Regions from separate parts of the Homo sapiens genome. Here region 2 is linked to region 1. Evidence: fine-mapped expression QTL. Tissue or cell type: monocytes after R848. Region 1 holds a variant in brackets; the other region holds the start of a gene. All regions are shown on one strand. Distances are from middle to middle.

Region 1 (10,416 bases):
GCCCCTGCATTGTTTGACTGACATTAAGCAGGAGAATCACTTGAACCTGGGAGGCAGAGGTTTTGGTGAGCCGAGATCACGTCATTGCCAGCCTGCCAACAGAGTGAAACTCCGTCCCAAAAAAAAAAAAAAAAAAAAAAAAACCAAAAAAACCCTTATTGACTCAGGCTGGGATCCGTGGCTCACACCTGTAATCCCAGCACTTTGGGAGGCCAAGGCAGGAGGATCACTTGAGGTCAGGAGTTTGAGACCAGCCTGGCCAACATGGTGAAACCCCATCTCTACTAAAAATACAAAAATTAGCCGGGCATGGTGGTGGGAGCCTGTAATCCCAGCTACTTGGAAGGCTGAGTCAGGAGAATCTCTTGAACCCGGGAGGTGAAGGTTGCAGTGAGCCGAGAATGCACCATTGCACTCCAGCCTGGGTAACAAGAGTGAAACTCCGTCTCATTAAAAAAACAAACAAACAAACAAAAAACTAAAAACCTTGTTGACTCAGAAATGAAAAGCTCCATAGTGTTTTCTGGAGTTGAAATGTCCTTTTTCTTCAGATGTTCTGTCCCCTTCATTATACATCATTGGGTGGTACCAGGGCGGAAGTATGCATAAAACCTTTTTTGTTTGTTTTTGAGATTGAGTCTTGCTCTGTTGCCCTGGCTGGAGGGCACGTGATCTTGGCTTACTGCAGCCTCTGCCTCCCAGGCTTAAGCAATTCGCCTTAGCCTCCCTAGTAACTGGGATTACAGGCACGTGCCACCACACCTGGCTAATTTTTCTATATTTCATTTTTACAATGTTGGCCAGGCTGGTCTCAAAGTCCTGGGCTCAAGCAATCCACTTGCCTCAGCCTCCCGAAGTGCTGGGATTACAGGCATGAGCCCCCGCACCCAGCTGCATAAAACCTTATGGCAAACTTTTCAGATACCCACTTCCCTGTTTTCTACTCCTGTGCTTTGTTTTATGTTTTGTTTTTTTTTTTTGAGACAGAGTGTTTCACTCTTGGAGGCTGGAGTGCAATGGCGCGATCTTGGCTCACTGCAACCTCCGCCTCCTGGGGTCAAATGATTCTCCTGCCTTAACTGCTCGAGTAGCTGGGATTAGAGGCATGTGCCACCATGCTTGGCTAATTTTTTTTTTGTATTTTTAGTAGAGACCGAGTTTCTCTGTGTTGGTCAGGCTGATCTCGAACTCCCGACCTCAGGTGATCCACCCGTCTCGGCCTCCCAAAGTGCTGGGATTACAGGTGTGAGCCACCACGCCCAGCCTCTACTCCTGTGCTTTATACTCAGTAGTTCTTGGAAAGGGGCTTGATGTCTGCATGTTATAATATTCCCTAAGCATTCAGAAGGAGGCAGTCTATGGATGAATTTGTGAAATATTATTCTTGATTCATTTGTGATATCCTGTCTCCTTCCTACACATAGGGCTTGGATTTTGGAGATGCTACAGCACATTTTGATTTTTTTTTTTACAAACAGGAATCTCTCTTCCTGACCTGAATATTAACTCCATGTTGGAGCAAAGGAGGGAGCCCTGGTCTGGTGAGAGTGAAGTGAAAATAGCAAAAAATTCAGATGGGAGGGAGTGCATCAAAGGTGTGAACACAGGTAAGAGCTCAGATGGGCATGGTGGAAGCCATGCTGTTGTTTGGGCTTTTTTTTTGTTTTGTTTTGTCTAGTTTTGGTTTTTTATGTTTGTATTTTTGTTTGTTTTGTTTTTGAGATGGAGTTTCACTGTCATGAAACAGAGCCTGAGAGACAGAGCGAGACTCAGTTTCAAATAAATAAATAATTTTTTTGTTTATTTGACTGGAGATCTTTCTTTCTCTCTCTCTCTTTCTCTTTCTTTCTTTCTTTCTTTCTTTCTTCCTTTCTTCCTTTCCTTTATTTGAGATGGAATTTTGCTCTATTGCCCGGGCTGAAGTGCAGTGGCGCTATCTCAGTTCATTGCAACCTCTGCCTCCCGGGTTCAAGGGATTCTGCTACCTCAGCCTTCCAGGTATCTATGATTATGGTCACCTGCACCATGCCTGGCTAATTTTTGTTTGTATTTTCAGTTAAGACAGGGTTTCACTATGTTGGCCAGGCTGGTCTCGAACTCCTGACCTTAAGTGATCTATCTGCCTCTGCCTCCCAAAGTGCTAGAATTACAGGCATGAGCTACCGCGCCCAGCTTCTTTTTGTTTTTCAGATACAGGGGTCTTGCTATGTTGATTTTGAACCCCTAGGCTTAAGCAATCCTCCTGCCTCAGCCTCCATAAGTACTCTGATTACCGGCATGAGCCATGATGCCTAGTCTTATTTTTTTATTTCGAATTTAGATTTAATTGATTTACCAGGAATATTTAACTAATTCCCCCGACAATTTCACTGTCTCCCCTCCCGCTTTCTTGTCTGTTTGTGTGAATTTCAGTATTTTGGATACTCAAATGGAATCACACAGTATTTGTCTTTTTATGACTGGCTTATCTCACTTAGCGTAGTGTCTTTCAGGTTCATCTATTTTGTAGCACATCAAGAAATTTGTATATTCTTTTAGGACTGAATAATATTCTTCTATTTGTCTGTACCACAGTTTGTTTAACTATTCATCCATTGGTGGACACCTGCATTGCGCCCACCTTTTTATTATTTTTGAATAATGCTGCTATGAACATGGGTTTTTGTTGTTGTTGTTTTTTGAGACAGTGTCTCACTGTCTCGCCCAGGCTGAAGTGCAGTGGCGTGATCTTGGCTCACTGCAACCTCCACCCTCTGGGTTCAAGCGATTCTCCTGCCTCAGCCTCCCAAACAGCTAGGACTACAGGTGCACACCACCATACCCAGCTAGTTTTTGTATTTTTAGTAGAGACAGGGTTTCACCATATTGGCCAGGCTCGTCTTGAACTCCTGACCTCATGATCTACCTGCCTCAGCCTCCCAAAGTGCTGGGATTATAGGCGTGAGCTATCGTGCCTGGCCTTGACCATGGGTTTTTAAGTATCTCTTCAAGATGCTGTGTTTACTTTCATTTTATTTTTCATTTGTTTGTTTGAGATGGAGTTTCGCTTTTGTTGCCCAGGCTGGAGTGCAATGGTGCAATCTCGGCTAACTGCAACCTCCACCTCCTGGGTTCAAGCAGTTCTCCTGCCTCAGCCTCCTGAGCAGCTGGGATTACAGGTGTGTGCCACCACGCCCAGCTAATTTTTGTATTATTAGTAGAGACAGGGTTTCACCATGTTGACTAGGCTGGTCTCGAACTCCTCACCTCAGGTGATCTGCCTGCCTAGGCCTCCCAAAGTAGTAACATTAAGGGTGTGAGCCAGTGCGCCTGGCCTTTTTCTTTTTTATCTTTATACCCAGATGTGGAATTGTTGCCTATACTGATCATTTGATTTTGGATTCTTTGAGAAAATGTCATACTTGTTTCCATAGTGACTGCACCATTTCAATTTTCCACCAACAGTGGCACAAAATTCTCCTATTTCTCCATATTTTCGACAACACTTGTGATTTTCTGGTGTTTCATTTTTTTCCCTTTTCTTGACAAAACGTATTCTATATGGGTGTGAGGTGATATTCTTTATTGGTGTGAGGAAAAATATTCAGTTTTCTATTTGCATTTCTCTCTAATGATTTGTGATATTTTGCATTTTCTTATATGGTCGTATATCACCTTTGGAAAAATGTGTATTTCTTTCCACATTTCTTAATTCGTTATTTGTTTTGCTTTGTAGGACTTATTTATATATTTTTATTTTATTATTTTAAATAATTATTTATTTATTTTTTGAGACGGAGTCTTGCTCTGTCACCCAGGCTGGATGCAGTGGCGTGATCTCGGCTCACTGGTACCTGCGCCTCCCAGGTTCAAGCAATTCTCCCACCTCAGCCTCCCAAGTAGTTGGGATTACAGGTGCACACCACCATGCCTGGCTAAATTTTTGTATCTTTAATAGAGATGGGGTTTCACTATGTTGGCCAGGCTGGTCTTGAACTCCTGACCTCAGGTGATCTACCTGCTGCAGCCTCTCAAAGTGCTGGGATTACAGGCATGAGCCACCACATCCGGCCTATATATATTTTAGATATTAAGTTTTTATCACAGATATGATATGCAAATATTTTCTCACATATGGTAGGTTTTCTTTACATTGTGGTAATTGTTTTCTTCTATCCACAATAGTTCTCAATTTTGTCATAGTGCATCGTGTGTATATTTACCTTCTTTCCTGTACTATCAATTTTATATCTGGGGAAATGTTGAATCCAATCTCATGAAGCTTTTTACCTATGGTTTTTTCTAGGAGTTTTATCGTTTTAGGTCATGAATAGACTTTAAGTTAATTTTTGCATGGGGTGTAAAGTAAGGGTTCAGCCTCATTCCTTTGCTTGTGGGCATCCTTTTTCTTCAGCACTATTTGATGAAGTGACTGTCCTTTCCTTGTTACATGGTCTTGACATTTTGATTGAACATTATTCTACCAAGTATTTGAGGGTTTGTTTCTGGCTTCTCTATTCTTGCTTTTTTTTTCATTTTTGCATGGGGGGATGGATTCTCGCTCTGTCATCCAAGCTGGAGTGCAGCAGTGAGATCTTGGCTCACTGCAACCTCTGCCTCCTGGGTTCAAGTGATTCTCCTGCCTCAGCCTCCCGAGTAGCTGGGATTACAGGCATGTGCCACCATGCCTGGCTAATTTTTGTATTTTTAGTAGAGATGGGGTTTCACCACGTTAGTCAGTCTGGTCTCAAACTCCTGACCTCAAGCAATCTGCCCGCCTCGGCCTCCCAGAACCCTGAGATTACAGGTGTGAGCCACCACACCTGGGTCATTTTTTACTTTAATGGAGAATTTTATCCTCTCATTTGGGTTACCAGTACTGTCTGGAATCCTTTTATTTCATTTTGAAGGGCTCCCTGTAGCATTTCTTGTTGGACAGGTCTAGAGTAGTAATGAACTTTCTTAGCTCTTCTTTATCGAGGAAAATCTAAATTTCTCCTTTATTTTTGCAGGTGACTTTTGCTAAATATAGTATTCTTGGTTGATTTTAAGCACTTTCAATATGTCATCTCACTGCCTTCTGGCAGGCAAAGTTTCCGCTGGAGAAAGTACATAGTCTTATACCTTTTCCTCTAAATGGCAAATATCTTTTTTGTTGCTCCTGTCAAAATTCTTCCTCTGTCTTTGATGTTTGATAATTTGCTTATAATGTATCTCTGTGTGAATGTCCTTGGGTTCATTTTAATTTGAATGGTCAAGCTTCTTGAATTGTATATTCAGGTCTTTCTTCAGAATTGGGATTTGGACAATTATTTGGACATTATTTCTTCAGTTGCAATTTCTGATCCTCTGTCTTCTCCTTGTGAACCTCTAATAATTTGT[ATGT/A]TGTTGTGCTTGAGAGCATCCGAAAAATGTATTAGCGTTTATTTGCTTTTCTTCTCTGTTTTTTGTTTTTGGTCTTTGTAGCTGATACTGTGTTTTTTTTTTTTTTTTTTTTTTTTAAATTAGAGTCTTGCTCTGTAGCCCAGGCTGGAGTGTAATGGCTCCATCTTGGCTCACTGCAATCTCTGCCTCCCAGGTTCAAGCGATTCTCCTGCCACAGCCTCCTGAGTAGCTGGGATTACAGGTGCATGCCCCCATGTCCATCTAATTTTTGTATTTTTAGTAGAGACAGGCTTTCACCATGTTGGTCAGGCTGGTCTCAAACTCCTGACCTAGTGATCCTCCTGCCTTGGCCTCCCAAAGTGCTGGGATTACAAGCGTGAGCCACTGTGCCTGGTGGAGCTGATACTTTTGAATAACTGACCTTTAAGTTTGCTCATTCTTTTTGGTGCTCTATCCATCTGCTGTTGAGCACCTAATGAATTTTTACTTTATTTATTGTGTTTCAGCTCCAGAATGTTTTTTGTTTCCTCCTTTGTTTAATATCCTCCTTCTCATGTATTGTTTTTCTGATTTCATTTAGTTGTCTATCTCTCCTTGATATCTTTTAGCTCATTAAGAATCTTAAGGCAGTTGCTTTAAATATTTGTCAAGGGCCAGGTGCAGTGCCTCATGCCTGTAATCCCAACACTTTGGGAGGCCAAGGCAGGAGGATCACTTGAGCCAAGGAGTTCGAGACCAGTCTAGGCAATATCACGAGCCCTTGTCTCTAAAAGAACACAGAAAAAACTTGCTGAGGCTGGATGTGGTGGCTCACGCCTGTAATCCCAGCACTTTCGGAGGCTGAGGTGGCCGGATCATGGTCAGGAGTTCCAGACCAGCCTGGCCAACATGGTAAAACCCCATCTCCACTAAAAATACAAAAATTAGCTGAGCATGTTGGCCGGCACCTGTAGTCCCAGTTACTCGGGAGGCTGAGGCAGGATAATTGCTTGAACCTGGAGGTGGAGGTTGCAGTGAGCTGAGATTGCATCATTGTACTCCAGCCTGGGCAACAAGAGCAAAACTCCATCTTAAAAACAAACAAAAGAAATAACAAAAAACCCCAAAACTTGCTGAATGTGGTGGTGCATGCCTGTAGACCCAGCTACTCAGGAGGCTGAAGCAGGAGAGATCGCTTGAGCTGGGGAAGTAGATGCTGCAGTGAGCTACACTATACCACTGCACTCCAGCCTGGACGATAGAGTGAGACCCTGTCTTAAATAAATAAATAAATAAATATTTGTCTAGTAATTTAGAGAGCTGCCTGTCTTTTTCTAGGTTTGGCTTTATTTATTTTTTAGCCATATTTCTCTTTCCTTTCATAGGCCTTGTAATTTTTGGATTAGGTTTGGTAAAATAACTGCTTCTCTCAGTTGTTTTGTATAAGACTTGGTCAGAGGGAGATCTTTTCTAATTAGCCTGTTGTAAAGGGTGTGGGAACACTCACTCCTTTTCTGGGGATGTGCCTTTCCTAGCTTTGTGCATGTACTGTTATTATGTATACTGCTTCTCTTGAGTGTCTTATTTTCCCTAGAGACTTGTCCCTTCTTTTTCTCAGAAGGTTTCAATTCCTGTTCTATCTCTCTACTCATAATCCCTCTCAAACTCACCTGTAATCCTCCTGACTCCTACAGATTTCCCAGAACTCCAGTGCATCACCTTACCCTTTTCTATTTTCAGCACAACCAGCGTGATGTACAAAGTGTGCTGATATTTCTTCCAATGTCTGAGTCAGATGAGGCAGATTCTAGTATTTTCATCAGACTCTAAACATGCCAGAATTATGGGGTCTGAATTTTACTTTTTTCTTGCTTTCCTAGGGAGCAGCTATGCATTGGGAAGCAATGCAGAAGACAAACCAATTAAAAAACAACTTGGAGTATCCTTTCACTTACATCTGTCTGAACTGGAGCTATTTCCAGATGAAAGGGTAATAAATGGATGTAATCAAGTTGAAAACTTTATCAACCACAGTTCCTCTGTTTCCTGTCTTCAAGAAATGTCTTCCAGTGTCAAAACCCCCATTTTTAATAGGAATGATTTTGATGATTCTTCATTTCTCCCACAAGAACAGAAAGTACACCTTAGAGAAAAACCTTATGAATGTAATGAGCATAGCAAAGTCTTTAGAGTATCTTCCAGCCTTACTAAACATCAAGTAATCCATACTGTAGAGAAACCTTACAAATGTAATTCATGCGGCAAGGTCTTTAGTCGCAATTCACACCTTGCAGAACATTGTAGAATTCATACTGGAGAGAAACCTTACAAATGTAATGTCTGTGGCAAGGTTTTTAGTTACAATTCAAACTTTGCACGACATCAAAGAATTCATACCAGAGAGAAGCCGTATGAATGTAATGAATGTGGTAAAGTCTTCAGTAATAATTCTTACCTTGCACGACATCAAAGAATTCATGCTGAAGAGAAACCTTACAAATGTAATGAATGTGGTAAAGGCTTCAGTCATAAGTCATCTCTAGCAAATCATTGGAGAATTTATACTGGAGAGAAGCCTTACAAATGTGATGAATGTGGCAAGGCCTTCTATAGGATTGCGCTCCTTGTACGACATCAGAAAATTCATACTGGAGAGAAACCTTACAAATGTAATGAATGTGGAAAGGTCTTTATTCAAAATTCGCACCTAGCACAACATTGGAGAATTCATACAGGAGAGAAACCTTACAAATGTAATGAATGTGGAAAAGTATTTAATCAACTTTCAAATCTTGCACGACATCGAAGAATTCATACTGGAGAGAAGCCTTACAAATGTAATGAATGTGGTAAAGCATTTAGTGAGTATTCAGGCCTTTCAGCCCATCTTGTAATCCACACTGGAGAGAAGCCTTACAAATGTAGTGAATGTGGCAAGGCATTCAGACACAAGTTATCACTAACCAATCATCAGAGAATCCATACTGGAGAAAGACCTTACAAATGTAATGAATGTGGCAAGGTCTTCAATCGAATTGCACACCTTGCACGACATCGGAAAATTCATACTGGAGAGAAACCTTACAAATGTAATGAGTGTGGCAAGGCCTTTAGTCGCATTTCATACCTAGCACAACATTGGACAATTCATATGGGATAGAAACTACAAATGCAACAAATGCGTCAAAGAATTTAGTGTGCACTCAAGCCTTACTACCCATCTTTTATTCCATACTGCAAAGAAATTTTGCAAATGTAAAGAATATGACAAGGTCTTCAAACACAAGTTTTTCTAATAACTCATTAGAGAATTTATACTGGAGAGACTTCACAATTATAATAAATGTGTGGAAAAGTCTTCAAAAAAATTTCACACCTTGCAAAAGGAGATCTAAAAAACACAATCAGAAATGACAAAGGGGACATTACCACCAACCCCACAGAAATACGAAAAACCCTCAAAGATTACTATAAACACCTGTATGCACACAAACTAGAAAACCTAGAAAAAATTAATAAATTCCTTGAAAGATATAACCCCCCAAGATTGAACCAAGAAGAAATTGCATCCCTGAACAGACCAATAATGAGTTCCAAAATTTAATCACTAATTAAAAATCTATCAAACAAAACTCTGGACCAGACAGATTTATAGTTGAAGCCTACGAGATGTATAAAGAAAAGCTGTTACCAATCTTACTGAAACTGTTCAAAAACATGGATGCAGAGGGACTCCTCCCTATCTGATTCTATGAGGCCAGCATCATTCTAATACCAAAACCTGACAGGCACAATGAAAAAAGAAAACTTCAGGCTGGTACTCCTGACGAATATAGGTGCCAAAATCCTCAGCAAAATACTAGTAAACCAAATCCATCTGCACATCAAAAAGCTAATCCAACATTATCAAGCAGGCTTTAGTGTTGGGCTGCAAGGTTGGTTCAGTATACACAAATCAATAAATGTGATTTATCACATACACAGAACTAAAAACAAAAACCACATGACCATGATCATCTCTTTAGATGCAGAAAGGTTTTTAATAAAATTCAACATCCCTTCATTTTAAAAACCCTCAACAAATTACACATTGAGGGAACATACTTCAATAAGAACCATCTATGCTGGACTCACAGCCAAATTAATACTGAACAAGCAAAAGCTGGAAGCATTCCCCTTGAGAACTGGAAAATGACAGGGATGACCACTCTCACCACTCCGATTCAACATAGTACTGGAAGTCCTAAGCTTAGTGATCAGGCAAGATAAAGATATGAAAGGCATATATAAATAGGAAGAGGGGAAGTCAGTTTCTCTTGCAGAAGATATAATTCTGTATTTAGAAAACCTGTTGTCTCTGCCCAAAGGCTCCTAGATCTGATAAACAACTTCAAAAAAGTTTCAGGATACAAAATCTGTGTACAAAAATTAGTTGCATTTCTATACACCAGTAATGTCCAAGCTATGAACCAAATCAAGAATGGAATCCCATTCACAGTAGCCACAAAAAGTATAAAATACCTAGGAATACAGCCAACCAGGTAAGTGAAAGATTTCTACAATGAGAATTACAAAGCAGTGCACAAAGAAATCAGAAACAATAAAAATTGAAAAATATCTCATGCTCATGGATAGGAAGAATCAGTATTGTTAAAATACTGCCCAAAGCAATTTACAGAGCCAATGCTATTTCTATCAAACTACCAATGGCATTTTTCACAGAATCAGAAGAAAACATTCTGAAATTTATTTGGAACCAGAAAAGCCCAACCTAAATAGCAAAAGCAATCCTAAGCAAAAAGAGCAATGTTTGAGGTATCACACTACCCAACTTTAAACCATACTACAAGGCTACAGCAACTAAAACAGCATGGTACTGGTATAAAAAAAGACACATAGATCAATGGAATAGGTAAGAGAACCCAGAAATAAAGGCATATACCTACAACCATGTGATCCTCAACAAAACTGACAAGCAATGAAGTAAGAACTTCATTCAATAAGTGGTGCTGGCATAACTGGCTAGCCATATGCAGGATATTGAAACTGGACCCCTATCCTTCACGATATACA
Region 2 (9,690 bases), 22 kb before region 1:
AAGGACACTGCCTTTTCAGATTAAAGATTGTCTGATTTAGAGACCATGGAGGTGGACAGAGAATAACAAAACCGTGATGGCAGTCATCATGCTTATTGCAGTTAGCACACACTTTTCCTGACAGGCACAGTGCTGCTGTGCTCTACAAATGACCATGAAATAGAGCACGCCATGACTTTAGGACACAGGGATTTTTATGGGAAGAGAGTTCATCAGGGACTGATTACGTAGGAGAGACGATGCAGGGGAAATGGTGGCCACCGTCTCCATTGAATAGCAATAGCTGCTGTTTAGCAAAGACTGATTAAAAAGTACTCTGATTTTTCAAATGGAAGAGAGAACAGTTAAATCAGAGTAGAGAGTTTAATCAAAACTACCAGTGGAACATGTTCTTGAGTAGGATTCACATTTAACTGCTGGCATAATTTGCAACTGTTGGATTTTCTCATGTTTGGAACAATAAAGTTGAAATTTTCCAAAGTGTGAATGATTTACCTTCTTTCTACCAATATTGTTTTATCTCGTCTCAGGAGGATACTTTATAGCAGACAATAATAAGGCACCATTAGGATTTTTAAATTAATTTATTTTTAAAATTAAAGTTCTAGTGTACATGTCCACAACATGCAGGTTTGTTACATAGGTATACATGTGCCATATTCGTTTGCTGCACCCATCAACTTGTCATTTACGTTAGATATTTCTCCTAATGTTATCCCTCTGCCAGCCCCCCACCCCCCGACAGGCCCCGGTGTGTGATGTTACCCGCCTTGTGTCCAGGTGTTCTCATTGATCAATTCCCACCTATGAGTGAGAACATGGGGTGTTTGGTCTTCTGTCACTGTGATAGTTTGCTGAGAATGATGGTTTCCAGCTTCATCAATGTCCCTGCAAAGGACATGAACTCATCCTTTTTATGGCTGCATAGTATTCCTTTTTTTTTTTTTTTTTTGAGATGAAGTTTTGCTCTGTCACTCAGGCTGAAGTGCAATGGCACGATCTTGGCTCACTGCATCCTCTGCCTCCCGGGTTCAAGTGATTCTCCTGTCTACACCTCCCAAGTAGCTGGATTACAGGCATGCACCACCATACCCGGCTAATTTTTTTGTATTTTTAGTAGAGATGGGGTTTCACCATGTTGGCCAGGCCGGTCTCGAAGTCCTGACCTCGGGTGATCCAGCCACCTCGGGTTCCCGAAGTGCTAAGATTACAGGCATGAGCCACGGCGCCTGGCCAGGATTTTTAAGGTTGAAGCATCCACAACAATTTTGTGTGTGAAATGAAATGACATGCACTTTTGGGTATATACACTTGGGTAAGTATGATTTTGGGTAATAATACTTAGTACTTAAGTTATTCTCTCTACTCTTTGTTTTTGTTTTTTGTTTGTTTTGTTTTGTTTTGAGATGGAGTTTCGCTCTTGTTTCCCAGGCTGGAGTGCAATGGTGTGATCTCGGCTCACCGCAACCTCCGCCTTCCAGGTTCAAGTGATTCTCCTGCCTCAGCCTCCCGAGTAGCTGGGATTACATGCATGTGCCACCATGCCCAGCTAATTTTGTTTTTTTAGTAGAGACAGGGTTTCTCCATATTGGTGAGGCTGGTCTCGAACTCCTGACCTCAGGTGATCTGCCCACCTCGGCCTCCCAAAGTGCTGGGATTATAGGCATGAGCCACCACACTTGGCCTACCTCTCTACTCTGCCCTAAGATGCTTTTGTGGGTAAAGTGAAAATCACATAACAGTGCAGCTTCATCATCATATGCCCTCAATGTTCATCACTGTTGATAAACATGCACTGTATTATGTTTCTGTGTGCCTTTTTCTTGTGTGCCAAGTAAGACCCATGGCAGGCACCTTCATTTTCAGGAAGCGAAAATACAGATACAGTAATATGGAAAATAGGACAAAGTGTGGACTTCAGGATGAAAATATTGTAACAATCTTGCTGTTGACCTCGTAGCGCTCAGTGACATAATTTGAAAAAATATTAATGTTCAGAAATGTTCTCTTGAGGATGAACACACAGATTGGGAATTTCGTTTTGCTTTGGTAGATTAACTAGAAACTTCACATTTTCACCCTTATAACCTTTTTGGTAATTTGAACTTTTGATCATTCTTCTGGAACTGCTTTGACATCCACCTGAAGTTTGGTTTGGGTATTGAGAATGATGATGCCATTCACTAATGTGATCTCAAAATGTTTACTCCATAATGAGGCTTTCTGGGGAGAGCAGGGTAGACTTCCCCGGTTGGTCCAAATATGACTAGGGAATCGGCATAGGTGACTGGCTTGGGGTATGATGATTGTTAAGGGATAGGGCTTGGGCAGGGGTGCCCACTTGTGGTTTGAACTTTCAGCTGGTGCCAAAGGAGTGGGCACTGAGGATTTTTCAGTTGACCAGATGGGCAGAATAGGAAGAGGGAGTGCAGAGGTGTAAAAGGCGTTGGTGTTCAGACATCACAAAATGCAGTCAACTCTAGGACAACTCTAGCTTCCTCTGGAAGCTCCTGCCATCTTGGTTAGGAAAGACTCTGATTTTCTTCATGATAATATCTTACGTTCCTTTTATAGTTACAGATACAGGTCTCATTGCACAATATGATTGTTGAAAACACTTGTGAAATTTTTTTAGTAAAATTGCCTAAGATACTTTTTATAGTAGACAATGAAAATTAGTGTGTGGGTTTATAATAAATATAATGTATTATATAATATGATTAAAATATATTTGTTATAAATATGATATTACTAGAAGAGCATTTTTCCAAAAGCTATGGAAATGTCATTTTCCCGTTACAGCATCAAGCAATATATTCCATGGTTCATTTTCAACTCTAATAAAATTATATTTTGTGTTTATATATGCACGTATAGACACATATATAATATTTTTTTTTTACTTTTTTCTTTTTCTGTACATTGCATCCAGATGCTATGCTTGTTTGTTTTTTTTTTTGAGACAGAGTCTTGCTCTGTCACCCAGGCTGGAGTGCAGCGGTGTGATCTTGGCTCATTGCAGCCTCCGCCTCCCAGGCTCAAGTGATTCTCCTGCCTCGGCCTCCCGAATAGCTGGGATTACAGACATGCACCATCACCACACCTGGCTAATTTTTGTATTTGTAATAGAGATGGGGTTTCACCATGTTGGCCAGGCATGGTCTTGAACTCCTGACTTCAGGTGATCCACCCGCTTCGGCCTCCCAAAGTGTTGGGATTACAGGCATGAGCCACCATGCCCGGCCAGATGCTATGCTTAATACATTTTTTCCGAATGTCACTCTAGTGAAAATTTTAGGGGACACAAAAATGAGACTGTTGTTTGGAGACAATATTTTTTGACAAGAGTATGCACAAGACAATGGCAGGTATAAACGTTTTATTGTAAATATGAAAAAGGAAAAAATGCTTTCACTATATTAGAGGACTTGAAGTAACGTGAAGTGATTCCAACCCTTTATCTTTATTTTATTTATTTATTTTATTATTTATTTTTTTGAGATGGAGTTTCACTCTTGTTGCCTAAGCTGGAGTGCAATGGAGTGATCTCAGCTCACTGCAACCTTCACCTCCCGGGAGCATGCTGCTCTATCTTTTTTTTCAGATGTTTGAGCTATTCCAGGTTTTTTGGGATTTCTGTTGGTTTGTTTTGTTTTTTGCTTTTCTACATAATTGTTTGGATAATCTTGTCAGTATCTACGAAGTGCCTTGATAGTAAATATATTAACCCTGTGTATCAATTTGGGGTAATTTCACATTTTTTTCTATGTTGAGTTTATCAATAAATTGATATTGTATATGTCTCTATCTGGGTGTCTTTGATTTCTTTCATCAGCATTTTGTAGTTTTAAAATCCTGAGAATGTTAAATTAACATATTTTTTGACTTTTTTTTTTTTTTTTTGAGACAGAGTCTTGTTCTGTTGCCTGGTCTGGAGTGCAGTGGCACAATCTCAGCTCACTGCAACCTCCGCCTCCCAGGTTCAAGCGATTCTCCTGCCTCAGCTTCCTGAGTAGCTGGGATTACACGCGTATGCCACCATGCCCAGCTAATTTTTGTATTTTTAGTAGAGATGGGGTTTTACCGTGTTGGCCAGGCTGGTCTCGAACTCCTGACCTCAAATGATCCACCTGCCTTGACCTCCCAAAGTGCTGGGATTACAGGTGTGAGCCACCTCGCCCGGTTAATGCTTTTTTAAAACCAACAATTGGTGACCTAAATTCTCACTGGCCTTAGCCCTCCATGCCCCTGGTGCTGTCACTAGAAAACTCTCTGGAGCTGAGCACAGGGTTACCTCTGTCCCTCCCGAAAGAACAGGGAATAGAAAAGGAGAGGATTTCTATTCTGCTTTGTGGGCCGTCAGCATGAAATTGCACATTCTGCCCAGGCAGGGCTTTGCAGTTCATGTATTAACTTGCGTCGCTTTCACAGACAATCCCAGGGCTTAATTAAATTGCTAAATTTAGTTTTTTATGTATTTATTTGAGAGACTGAGTCTCTGTCGCCCAAGCTGGAGTGCAGTGGCCGTCATAACTCAGTGTAAACTCGAACTCCTGGGCTCAAGCGATCCTCCCGCCTCAGTCTTCGGGGTAGCCGGGACTACAGGTGCCCGACCGCACGGTCGGCTTAAGATTAACTTTAATAGCAGGAATTTTCCTGGATCTAATCATTAGCCGACTTTGCTCAGTCCCGGCAAGAGTACAGTTCCGAGACAGCTGAGTTGCTCCAGTCTCCTTGACAGGTCTCCCCGGCAAAACCCGGAAAACAGAGGCACTGGAAGCGAGGCGGAGGGAAGCGCAAGCCCCACTCCGCCCCGCCCCCGCCCCCGCCCCCGCCCCCGCCCCCGCCCCCGCCCCCGCCCCCGCCCCCGCCCCCGCCCCCGCCCCCGCCCCCGCCCCCGCCCCGCTCGGACCCCTCCGCTGCGCGCGCAGTTTCCCACAAACCCGGAAGCGGATCGCGTGGAGTGAAGGTCACGCCGCGGCGCGTGAGTTTCCCTTTGTGTAAATTAATCTGCGCTTCCCAACTCCCCCGCGCTTCTGTACCCGGGATCTGAGGGGCCACACAGACCTTGAAATCCTCGCACCGCTCCCTCTACCCCGACCAAATTCAGGCGTCTCCGTGAGAGTCAGGCGGTCGCTTCCCTGTGTGTTTAAATCGCTCGGCGGCGGGTCCTGTCCCCCGTCCTTCTGCCACAGGGCCATGTAGTCACCTCCTGTCGCGGAGTTTTCCTGTTTCAAGTCCTTCAGTGATGCTTACATCCGCCCCGCACAGCGTAAAGTCCTCCCCCGCTAGGCGGATTCCGGTCTATGCGGTCCCCCAAGCCTCGCCTTTGTTGGCCCTGGAGCACAGCGCTCCAATCTCAATCCAGGAGAAGCCGCGTCTTCTGCCCAGTGCTGGGATTCTGCAGACGCCACCCATCTCTTGATCCAGACCCTACCTTTACCCTCCTTGATACGGGGCCCCGCTACTCCCCAGGCCTCCTCTTCCCAGACACCGCTTCTCCTAACCCTGCGTGTGGGGAGGTGACTTACTCTGTCTCTTGACATCCAGTGTTCTTGCGGGCCAAATAACACCCCACTGAAAAGGTGTTCTGCTTGTGGACATCGGATCCCAATTCCTTCCATGTGAATGTGTGCAGAAAGAGAGACGGAGAGCGAGGGAGAAGAAAGAGAAAAATTTTGAAGGAGAAAAGAAGATTGAGGGAGAGCCGTAAGCAGATGGCAAAGTAGAGAGTGGATGGAGGATTTGCAGAGACAGCGAATGAAGCCGAGAAAGTAGCAGGGGGAAAAAAGCAACTGGAGAAATGCAGAGAAAAGTTCCATCTCCGGAGAGATGAAGGACAGCAAGATAGTGAGAGGGGCAGCAAAGTGGGAAGTTCCTCAGTTTGAGAGTGGGGGAGAGGGGGAGGGATTTGGAGCCAGGGCAGACAGAGCAGCGTGGTGCTGGGACAGCAAGAGGAGTCAGCTGGTGACAACGAGAGCAGAGGGAGAACCACAGCAGGTGGAGGCCTGGGATCTCAGGGTGCCAGAGAGTGGGGACAAGGGGGTGTAACAGAAAAGAAGGGATTTAACAGAGAGAGCAGAGGGGGAGTAGAGTCAGGGGAAGAGGCAAGACCGGGCACAGTGGCTCACGCCTGTAATCCCAGCACTTTGGGAGGCCAAGGTGGGTGGATCACGTGAGGTCAGGAGTTTGAGACCAGCGTGGGCAACATGGTGAAACCCCATCTCTACTAAAAATGCAAAAATTAGCCGGGCGTCAGCGCGCGCGTGTAATCCCAGCTACTCAGGAGGCTGAGGCAGGAGAATTGCTTGAACCCGGGAGGCGGAGGTTGCAGTGAGCTGAGATTGCGCCATTGCACTCCAGGCTGGGCGACAAGAGCAAAACTCCGTCTCAGGGAAAAAAAAAAAAAAGAGACAAATAGGTGGAGAATGGGATGATCAAAGATTGAGCAGAAAGTTTGGAAGAGGGGTGAAACAAGTTGCCAGAATGGAGCAGAACAGGTGGAAGAGAAGGAATAGAAGGAAGAAGGGGAGAAACATCAGGAGAAGAGAGGGGCTCAAAATGAGCAGAATCTTAGGGGAAAAATAAAGGGGGAAAAAAGCTAGAGAAAGAAGGTGAGAATGAGAGATACGTACAGAATGAGGGAGGGAAACACAGTACCCAGAAAAGAGGGAACCCTGGGTGCAGATGAACGGTGAGTTGATTGGATATTATGATTAAGTTGTGACATTGATTTATCTATTTATAATTTGATAATATGAAATATACTTTAAAAATACAGATGAAAATGGATATGCAAAACTCCTGTCTGTAAGGCTGGTGCATTTTATAATTCTTGGCATCAGACTTTAGCTTCCACTCACATTCCCTATTCAGGCACAGGTCAGTGACTTGAGTCATTCAGGTGTGGGTCACCCACTTTCCTTTTCCTGGGATGGGGTAGGGTGTGGGCGAGTGTAAAAGATAGCAGGAAAACCAAAGTGTTTTTCCTACTCTTGCAGTCAACACAATAGTGAACACTCAACACAGAATGCTTCATATCTGATGAACAAAATGTGTGGGGATTTCTTCCCACCAACAAGCAATTCGTCAGACACCGCCTGGGTGATCCGTAATTTCAGTCAAGTTGACACTGTCTACTTGAAGTTAGCATCAGATCCCACAGGTTGGGGGCTCAGTTCCACAAGGCTGCCGCTACTTCACGTGCTGGTTGTAAGTTCCTGGTTGGGACCTGAACTTCAACCAAACATCTAAAAATTGAAGATTCCCTTGACCCTTTGCTCAGATTTTATTAATTTGTTAGCCTCATTCACAGAACTCAAGGAAGCATTTTGCTTAGTTTTACCCATTTGCTATGAAGAATATTGCAAAAGATACAGATGACTAGCCCGATGGAAGAACCCTCCTAGCAAATTAATCAAAAGAAGGGGCTTTGGGATACCCTGATTTTTTTTTTCTTTTGTTTTGTTTTGAGACAGAGTTTCACTCTTGTTGCCCAGGCTGGAGTGCAATGGCATGATCTCAGCTCACTGCAACATCCATCTCCCAGTTTCAAGCATTTCTCCTGCCTCAGCCTCCCAAGTAGCTGGGATTATAGGTGTGTGCCACCACGCCCAGCTAATTTTTGTATTTTTAGTAGAGACGAGGTTTCACAATGTTGGCCAGGGTGGAATAAATGGAGTTCAGTACTGTTTGAAGTTCCAGGCATCCAATGGGGGTCTTGGGACATCTTCCCCATGGATACGGGGATTCCAGTGTGTTCTGTCTCTGGTGCTGAGCACCAAGGCTCTGTGTCCTCCATTTCTGAGGGATTACATGAGCCTGGGATCCATAGAGAGGAGAGGAGGGGCTGTGCTCTGCATGGGGTTTGGTCAGGGCTGGGTCTGGCCCTGAAGGGGAGCTTAGACCAGGCCAGCTCCCCACTGCTGCAGCGTGCGTGTGGGCATCTCTAGGAGGGGAGCAGGTTCTGAAGACGAGTAAAAAACTCACTTGTTGTTCTTCCTGTAGGAGTTTCTTGTCTCTGCATCAACTCTGGTGCAGTGGGCAGCAGAGGACATCTTTCCGCAGGGTGAGGTCTAACCTGTGTGTGTGATTGTGGCACAGGAAAAGGGTGTGTTGATTCTAAGCCCTAAACAGCATATTTTTGACATTTAGGATTGACTTCTAAAGAGTCATGCTGTGTGATGAAAAAGCCCAGAAGAGAAGGAAGAGGAAAGCAAAGGAGTCAGGGATGGCTCTTCCTCAGGTGAGATGATATTCTCGGTGGATTGTTCTGTCTCCTTTCTTTCAGAAACGCTGGGCCTTCGAGTTGGGAGTCTTCTCTGAGTCTGAAGTGTCCTGCCTGACAGGTTTGCTCACGCTTACCTATGCCTTCCCTCAGTGCCGAGACCAGCTTGGTCGTGGGGACCCTAACCTAGTGGCACTAGAGGAATTAAAGACACAGACACAAGAATAGAGTGTAAAGTGGGATCAGGGGCCAACAGCCTTCAGAGCTGAGAGCTGCGAACAGGGTTTGACCCACATATTTATTGACAGCAAGCCATTGATAAGCATTGTTTCTATAGATTATAGATTAACTAAAAGCATTCCTTATGGGAAACAAAACATTCTTAGCAAGGAGTAGAGAAACAGTCTTTGGCTAATTATCTGCAGCAAAAACGTGTTAAGGCACAGGCCACTCATGCTATTGTTTGTGGTTTGAGCAGTTTTCCACTCCGGGCAGGCCAGGTGTTCCTTGTCCTGCTCCAGTAAGCCAACAGCTTCTAGCAGTGTGTGTCATAGCCATCACAAGCACGTTTCATTGCTGCAAAAATCCTGCTTATGGCCAATTTCTTTAAAGCCTGTTGCCAGCATGTTCCCCTTTCTGTTTTTGCAAAGTGACAAAGGCAAAGGCTGCTTTGTCACGGTGGGCTACTTCTCACAGGATTCGGGATTCGGGATTTGGATCTGCATGCTACACAAAGACAAACAACACAGATTAAAAGCACAATCATCATTGAAATCAGGGAGCCTCCAATTGTCTTGATCCATTTTAACGGGTTAATAGCTGCTAATCTGTCTGCAGCTCCTTCAAGCTCTTTAGTTCCTGGCATTAGCATCAGATGTGCCTGAGAGGCTTGGAATACTTGTTCCTTCAGTTTTGTAATATCTAAAGATAAATTTCCAGTATGACCCTTTAAATGTCTCTTAACTCTTTCCTACTCATGCTCTGTTTCATTATACAGATGAGGAGTAATGCAAAAATCAGAAGTATTCCAATCACATTGTATCTGCATTCTATATTCTAGACTAACTACTTGATCTCCTAGCCGCATTACAGTTTATCGGAGATCATTGATTTGATTAGCTAGTTTTCAGTCTGTGTTAGTTTGGGAATTCCACTGCAAAGTAGAATTTTTCTGCCAATTATTTACGTAGTCTGCTCTTTGTACTGTGGAATGCAAAGTAACTCCAGCTACCGTGGCAGTAGCTGTGACAGCAATCAATCCCATAATGATTAAAATTAAAGTGGCAATGAAACACCGAGAGTACCTCAAACTCTTTTGAAGAATTTCAGTAATGTATGCACAGAAGGAGAGGCTTCCCAAGGACAGGAAAGCTTTACAGGTATCCATACTCCTTCTCAGGCTCTTACCACTAAAATAGAATGATGAGTATTATACAGGGAAGAATTCAAGAAAACAATGTACA

Alleles and levels. Alleles are on the strand shown, and positions count from the first base shown. SD is a standard deviation of normalised expression in the study named.
For the expression in monocytes after R848 of the gene that starts at base 4,930 in region 2, allele ATGT in region 1 goes with a lower level than allele A (large effect, 1.4 SD a copy in Quach 2016).

The links. PIP is the estimated chance that this variant, and not a neighbour inherited with it, causes the effect.
Region 2: ZNF480 starts here. The variant in region 1 is fine-mapped to the expression of ZNF480 in monocytes after R848 (Quach 2016, PIP 0.95).

Annotation. Positions count from the first base shown.
Region 1 is chr19:52,314,356-52,324,771 of GRCh38, forward strand. It overlaps ZNF480 (zinc finger protein 480), which reads left to right. Exons shown (of 5, transcript NM_144684.4): 4 at 1,479-1,607; 5 at 7,224-10,416. The coding sequence ends at 8,503. Among named protein-coding and RNA genes, the nearest start is that of ZNF610, 17 kb to the right of the region's middle. The variant ATGT/A (reference allele first, on the strand shown) is at 5,362.
Region 2 is chr19:52,292,240-52,301,929 of GRCh38, forward strand. ZNF480 (zinc finger protein 480) reads left to right here and starts at 4,930. Exons shown (of 5, transcript NM_144684.4): 1 at 4,930-4,984; 2 at 8,155-8,245. The coding sequence starts at 8,174. It overlaps ZNF766 (zinc finger protein 766), which reads left to right. Exons shown (of 4, transcript NM_001010851.3): 4 at 1-3,807. RefSeq lists enhancers at 4,992-5,041, 5,112-5,161.